Homo sapiens: one gene and its partner. The protein of the gene in region 2 purifies or fractionates together with the protein of the main gene of each other region. This does not show direct contact. Each region holds a gene or a part of one and is shown on either strand. Other genes may lie near its edges. The genes, in order: FAM98A and ESPN.

What was found.
Region 1: the proteins of ESPN (region 2) and FAM98A purify together in Homo sapiens (affinity purification with mass spectrometry; one large-scale study listed by BioGRID and IntAct). This does not show direct contact.

Annotation. Positions count from the first base shown.
Region 1 is NC_000002.12:33,592,498-33,596,308, forward strand, and holds part of FAM98A (protein FAM98A), read right to left. Parts: intron 3,141-3,811; coding exon 2,992-3,140; intron 1-2,991. UniProt on the Homo sapiens protein: Positively stimulates PRMT1-induced protein arginine methylation. Involved in skeletal homeostasis. Positively regulates lysosome peripheral distribution and ruffled border formation in osteoclasts.
Region 2 is NC_000001.11:6,445,179-6,448,989, reverse strand, and holds part of ESPN (espin), read right to left. Parts: intron 3,327-3,811; coding exon 3,055-3,326; intron 2,686-3,054; coding exon of another isoform or gene 2,566-2,685; exon of another isoform or gene 1,942-2,565; intron 963-1,941; exon of another isoform or gene 873-962; intron 521-872; exon of another isoform or gene 429-520; intron 350-428; coding exon 1-349. UniProt on the Homo sapiens protein: Multifunctional actin-bundling protein. Plays a major role in regulating the organization, dimension, dynamics and signaling capacities of the actin filament-rich microvilli in the mechanosensory and chemosensory cells.

The DNA of each region.
Region 1 (3,811 bases), on a different chromosome or scaffold from region 2:
TGGGCCTACAGGTGTATGCTACCATGCCTGGCTAATATTTAGAAAATTCTTTTGTAGAGACTAGGTCTCAGTATGTTGTCTAGGTTAGTGTCAAACTCCTGGCCTCAAGTTATCTTCCCACCTTGGCGTCTTCAAGTGCTGGGATTACTACAGGCATGAGCCACTGCTCCCAATCTAAAATTTTCTTTCTCAGTGTTCATTAGGTCATTCTCTTATTTGGGAGTCTTTAATGGTTCCCTAATTTCTCCCTCATCCAATCTGATTTTTTTCTGTCTGCTTTTAAAGATTCTTCATAGCTGCTTAGGTTTGTTCTTCCTAGCATATTCAGCTATAATCACCTACATTCCCTCCACAAATATTTCCTGTGTGTGCCAGGCCAGTCTCCTCACTGTCCCATGAATAGCCAGTCTTATTTCCACTCTGTGCCTTCATTTAAGTTATTCCCTGTGACAGATATGTCCTCTACTCTCTTCCCCTCTAGCAAATCCCACCCATCCATCAAAGCCCAGTGGCCTTGCTCCTTGATGAAACCTTCCTTGTACTTGGCTGAAACTTCACCCTCGTACTTGCTGATTTCCTCTCTCTGTGAACCACAAAGTGGTTCAGCATTTAAGTACTGTACTTGGCCGGGCACGGTGGCTCATGCCTGTAATTCCAGCACTTTGGAAGGCCGAGACGAGTGGATGGTTTGAGTTCAGGAGTTCGAGACCAGCCTGAGTAACGTGGCAAAACCCCGTCTCTAAGAAAAATAACAAAAATCAGCCAGTTGTCGTGGCACATGCCTGTAGTCCCAGCTACTAAGGAGGCTGACCTGGAGAATTGCTTGAACCTGGGAGGCAGAGGTTGCAGTGAGCCCAGATCGCGCCACTGCACTTCAGCCTGGGTGACAGAGTGAGATCTTGTCTAAAAACAAACAAACAAAAGGACTGTACTTATCTCCAGTTGTTTAATTTGTGCCTAACATTCTCAATTAGAAAAAATTTGAAGACAGCAAACATGACTTACAGTCTTGTATTCCCACAGCATATAAAAAAAGGTATAGAGTTCACTGGGTGAACCAAAGGAAAAACAAAGCTCTTTCTTCATTATTTTGATTGTTCTCTATTCACTATCACAAAGGGGAAGAAATTAACAAACTCTGAGAGAGTCACTTGATCACCTGAGTCCATTTTCTAATCTGTAATACAGGAAGCCTACATTATGAATATTTTGCAAACTGTGATCTGTGAGCCCTTGAGTTCCACAGAGCTCTTTTAGAGGCAGCTGGGAGGATGAGGAGGAAAGAGCTGGGCTAAAGGTACCTCGTCTCTACTTTGTTAGAATACCTTCTAACCTGTTTTACATGTTAGCTTCTGTATCATGTTTCATTTGAGAAAAAGGGGCTCCAGGTTAAATAGAGGTATCATCTAGTACTGGTGTTTTCAAAGGTTCCTACAGTCTCTCAAACATCTGGTCAAGAGGCAGTATAGCACAGTGTTCAAGCACACTGGCTCAGAACTTGACTACTGTTCTGGGGTTGAAACCAGGCTTCACCCCTACAGGTTGTATGACCTCAGGCAATGTATTTAAATTCTCTGGGCTTTCTTGTTAAAGGTATAACAGTAATAAAACCTGCCTCATAGGGTTGCCCTGAGGTTTAATGAGTTAACACATATAAAGTGTTTAGAACATAGTGAGTACACAATAAATGTAAGCTGTTGCTATCATTACTGTTACACTATACTCTCCTTAATAATTAGAACTGAATGCAACTAACACGTACACATTAAATATACCAGCATGCAAGCCATCATCCTCCACAAACTAACACAGGAACAGAAAAAAAACACCACATGTTCTCACCACTAAGTGGGAGTTAAAAAATGAGAACACATGGACACAGGGAGGGGAACAACACACACCAGGGCCTGTTGCGGGTTAGAGGGTGAGGAGAGGGAACTCAGAGGACAGGTCAATAGGTGTAGCAAACCACCATGGCACACGTATCCCTATGTAACAAACCTGCATGTTCTACACATGTATCCCGGAACATAAAGTTAAAAAAAAAAAAAAAAAAAAAAAAATTATATATATATATATACACACACACACACACACACACACATACATACACACATATATATATACACACATATATATACACATATATATATACACACATATATATACACATATATATATACACACATATATATACACATATATATATACACACACACACACACACACTAGCATGCAAGAAGGTGAGCTCTTCAAAACGTGATTATGTGGAAAAAAAGGAATTATATGTATAGCTCTCCATAAGGGTGGGTTAACAGGTGAGTATTTTCCTTGGTCTCCTATTATAGGTTTACCTACAGCAGGAAGGAACCAGATGGTAGAGTGGTAGGTTCCAAGCTTTTGCCTCTTTTGCAGTGTCGACAAACTAGTGCAACAGTGGAAACAAAATTGGTAAATGCAGAACAGCTCTCAGATCCATAAATTTGATTGTCCTGGATCTCACTGTGATGTATCTAACGATGCATTCTTATGATAAACAAAATGTCTTAACAAAGTGTTCTCTTTCTCCCCAAGCATAACAGAATAATAATGCATTTACTCTACATGCTATAGATGCTTCTAGAATCTGGTAATCCTAAAAGAAAAATATCCCAGTATCTAGTTCTAGCCATCAATCTAGGATCTTACATTTAACATCTTACAAAATATAGGAAGTTCATACATTCTATGCTTGTGGTCTCCATTTCTCTGTATCCCAGTAATAGGGTCTTTTCAGCATCCACGAATTTTTAAGTTACATGACTTTATTCTGGTATTTCAACTTCTGAATCACCTCTAAAAACAACGGACGGAAAAAAAATCTTGGCTTCTTTACAAATTTTTTACATTTACAAAAACTTGCAACTTTCAGCTTTAGTATTGATAATGTTCAGTTGACAATACCTCAATGTTATTTTTATACTTTGTACCTAAAAGTGAATGTTTACTTACTGTTAGTTGCTTGCACGTTTTCCTCTAGTTTACAGAGCACTCTTAATTCAGACACCAGCCAAGCACAGAGTTTGGTAAACTCGGGGGAACTGGCTCCAGCAGAGACTGCCTGAGAGAGCGCTCCATCTTCCAACAATGGGCCCTTGTAACTGGTGAGCAAGAAATTACATTTCAGAAGAAAATACAATCATACCTAATATATTACAGATAAAACATATCTATGTCTTATTTATATAAGCAATAATTTAATAAAGATAAGTTAGTACTTATCTTTATTTTAAATGGACAAATATAAACATAATTTAGAACTATACTGAACCATTACAAAAAGCAGCTAAATGGTAGCTGCATTTCAACCTTTCAAAATGTAGGTGAATATCTAACAGAATTGCATATACTACTAAATTATGTCAACTTCTGTACATTTACTAAAAGCTTCCATTGTAAAAAGATTTATTTTCTTACTGTAATTGAATTGAGTATTAAAAGCAAATTAACAAGTAATAGCTAATTATACTGTAACTTATTTCAGAAATAAAACTTAGGTTATCTTTTCTAAAAATTTTCCAGAAAACAACTAGATTATGTTTTTATTTTGAGATGAGGTCTTGCACTGTCACATAGGCTGAAGTGCAGTGAAGGCACAAGCCACCAAACCTGGCTTTTTTTTTATTTTTTATAAAATAGCCAGGGGTCTTACTATGTTGCCCAGGCTTAGTTAGGTTTTTAATGACTTCCTTTAAAAGTAAAAACTTTCCAGTTAACCATTTATATCATTTTTATAAATTTAATGCCAGTTAAGACTAGTAAGACATTCTAG
Region 2 (3,811 bases):
GCGGCGGCGGCGGTGGGGGCGGCGGTGGCAGCTCCCTGGACGCCTTGGGGTCCGCGGCGCAGCCGTTAGGAACATGGTTCCCAGGAAGCAGCGCCGCCTGCGGGGGAGCGGAGGGGCCTTCGAGTGAGCCGCGGGCGGCAGGGCCGAGGCGCGGGCAGCCGGCGCGCGCGGGCTGGCGGGCACGCACCTCCTCGCTGTGCGCCATGCCCGGGCGTGCGGCCAGCGTCTCGCCGGGGCAGCGGCCCAGCTGCCGGTAGTAGTCCCCCGTGCTGGGCTGCTTGCTGAAGGCGCGGGGCTTGCGGCTGGAGTCCTGCCTCCGCAGCCCGTCGTGGCCGTCACAGGAGCTCAGCTGCGGGAAGACAGTGACCGGTGGGGCTCGGGCACCTGCCCGGTAGGCGCCCCCCACGCCTCCCCACCCAGCTCTTCACCTCCTGGGGACTCGCGGCCAGCGGCCGTCGAGGGGTGCAGCAGCTGACTTCCTAGACCCCCTGGTTCTCACAGTGGGCAGCGGGCGAGGGTCATGGGGGCCTCGGTGGAAGGGCAGGCTCCGCCCGCCTTACAGGGAGGGGTTCTGGGCACCGGCCAAGGGGCACAGGGGCCCCCACTGAGGCCAGAAGAGGCGGGCCCAGGGGCGGGGTGGCCCAGCCCCGACGCCAGGGGGAGCTGGCGAAGGGGCACCTCCCAGCTTAGCCCTCACTAGGCCCTCGGCCGCACTCCGCTCTCGGCTGTCAGAAGGACTGCGGGTCCCCAGGGCTCCGCGGAGCCCTGTCTTTCGGGGGTCCGGGGCCGGAGGGAGCCCCCTCCAGAGCCTGTGCTCTCGGAGGCTCCGGCTTGCCACGGACCCCGGTTGCCCGTCCGGGGGCTGCTCCTACCTGCCACGGTGCTGGTGGCCCCCGCTGTGCACCTGGCTGTGGGGGCGGCAGGACCCGACACCTGCGTTACCTGATACTTCCTCTCAGGTTACAGCCACCCGCGCACAGCCAGCCTATGGGCTCCGACGGCCTGACATCACCCGGGGCCCGCCAATCCCAGGCTGAACCCCCCCAGCCGTCGCGGATGCCACAGGGGGCGCCAACTACTTTGCCACACCTGGCCGCGGCTCTGCACCCGTCCCCGGCCAGATGTGACCCCGCCCCCTGCGCCTCTCCCTAAGCTGGGAGCTGAGCCCCCACCTTCATCCCCGCCCGAGAGGGGAGAGGGCTGACTGTGGGCAGAGGAGGCCTCTCATATTTGGCCCCCGGCTCCGGGTCGCGTCCCCACCCTTCCCCTCCTGCATCTGGAAACCATCGCCATCCACGAAAGCGACACCGACACCCGCGCTCAAGCCTCGGATTTCAGGGGCCGTAAGGCGGGGTCGGGTGACAGCGTGGCTTCCCACCCCATCGCAGCTGCCCCCAACTAGGCCCAGCTCAGTGAGGGAGAGTGAGGCGGCCGGGCCAAAGACTGAGTGACCGGGTGGGGGCTGTCCTCTGCCCCACTCTCCAGCCCATGCGTCCCTGCGGTGGCCTCAGACCCTTCACCCCGCCCGACCTGGCTCACGTTGCAGGAAATGCGACACCGCAGGATTTGTTTTCTGGGCCAGCCCGCCCGCTCCGCGCCCCCTGCAGCCCGGAGGTTCGGACGCCACGACCCTGCTCCCGCCCCCGGTCAGGCACCCGCGCGGGGGGCGCCGCGGCGACACAAAGAGCCCTTTGTGGAGCGTCCGGGCCCCGGCCCTGGCGCCTGCGGCCCAGCACGCACACGGCCGAGATGGACGCACATAGCCGGGAGGGGCGCACACAGTGGGGAGGGGCGCACACAGCCGGGAGGGGCGCACACAGCCCGGAGGGACGCACACAGCCGGGAGGGGGCTCACACAGCCAGGAGGGGACCACGCAGACCTGGCACTTGGGCTCAACGGTGGAGACGGGGCACTGGCTGGGCCACCTGTCCTGTGGATTTGGGCGGGGCCAACAGTCTGCGTTGGGAACTCAGCGATTCCAGGGCCCCCTCTGCCTCCCAGAGATGAAAGGGGAAGCCACTGTGGGAGCTTGGTCTAAGGTGGCATGAAGAGGGCAGCTACTGGAGCTGGCCTGCAGGTTCGGTGTCCCTCCCATGCCTCCCTTGCCCAGTGGCCTTGTGACCCGAGTCACCTTTTATGAATTGGCCCTGGGGTGGCTTTGCCTTGGGCTTGAGAACTGCAAGGTCCCAGGCTCCAGCAGGACCCCAGGGGGCTGCCACACCACATCTGGCCACCTGTGACCTCAGGCTGTCCCCTCACCTCTTAGACCATCCTTGCTCTGTTCCTATGGCCAGAACGCCAGTGTTCCCCAGGGCACCCTGCCCGGGATACCCGGAATTGCTCAGACCAGACCTCTGCCCCAACCCCTGCTCCAGAGCCTCAGCCAGGGGCCTGCAGGCCCCAGACATCCCTAGGCACCTCACACTCCACCTGCCCACCCTGGCCTCATCCTCTCCACACAGGCTCGCTTCCTTCCAGGGCTCCCAGCTCAGGCCTGGCCCTTTCCCCCAGGAGCTCAAGCCCTAAACTGGAACCAGCCACAGCTTCACTTCCACCCAGCCCTGCTAGTGCCTGCTCACCTTCCCCCCACCCTCCTTCCAGCCCTCACCTCCACAGCCATGCCACTGGCACCTTCCACCTGGCAGCCACCTCCCTTGGGTGACACTCTCCGACTGAGCCTGGGGCTGTGGGGGTGGGGGGGCATGCTTGGGGAGGGGCAGTCTCCATGCATTCTCTGTCAACTCCATGACAACCCGGCCACTCTGTGCAAGAGGTGGCACAGGCCCAGTTCCTGGTGAGGCACAGCTGTCTGGACCTGCGTCCTTCACCCCCCAGCTCCCATGGAGGGCAATGACCTGCTCTTACTCTCCTCCCAGTCCAGTGTCCAGCCCTGACCCCTTGTGGGACTCGCCAGGAGCTTTGACTCTTGAACATGCCATGGACCCAGGGATCCCCACCCTATGCCCACTAGTGAGGCCAGGCCTTTGGCCTCACTGGCCCCCATCAGCCCAGTCCCCCTGCTGGGAGGCAGGCAGGGGGTGAGGGCTCACTACCTCCTTCTTGAGGGCCTCTGTCTCCACGTGGCGGAGTTTGTTCTTGGTCTGCATGTAGATGTCAGCTGCCTGTGGTCCTACAGGAGGCTTGGGAGCTGGGTAGCCAGGTGGGGGTGGGGGCAGTTGGGTGCCTGGGGGCGGGGGTGGCGGGGGGAAGCTGGGTGGGGGTGGTGGGGGTGTGGGCTTCCCAATCGTGCCCCGAGGCAGGCCCAGCTCCGGGTTCAGCATGTCCATGTAGCTCTGTATGTCTGCAGCTCTAGCGCTGGAAAGCCCTGGGGAGGCAGAAGGAAGGGCCAGATTTGGGAGCATGCAGACAGGCTGTCCCCCAAGACTGAGACTCTCCACCACCTGGAAACAACTTGCCGAGGGGCAAGGTGGGCTCCGGGCACCACTTGGTACACCTGCTGTGGCCCCTGGCGGTGCTGGGCTTCCCCTCCCTGGCCCTACCCTGCCCCAGCCCAGCACTTACTGGGGGAAGACCAGGCACTCCGGTTTGGAGGGGAAGCACTGGAGGCTTTGGTGTGTCTAGAGGGCAGGGTCACCTGGAAGGGGAGGGTCTACTCCTTGGGAGTACGGATGGCCACATCCAATCTTTGCAGGGCACCCCTGCCAGGTCTGGAGGCCACCATCTGGCGGCGTGAAGCAGGCATTGCAAGTGGACGGACGCCCATGCTCAGGGCACGGTCAGGGTGTGTGTACACACAAGCCTGCAGTCTGCCGAGGCGATCGTGCATTTGTGTATGTTTGAGGGGGTACG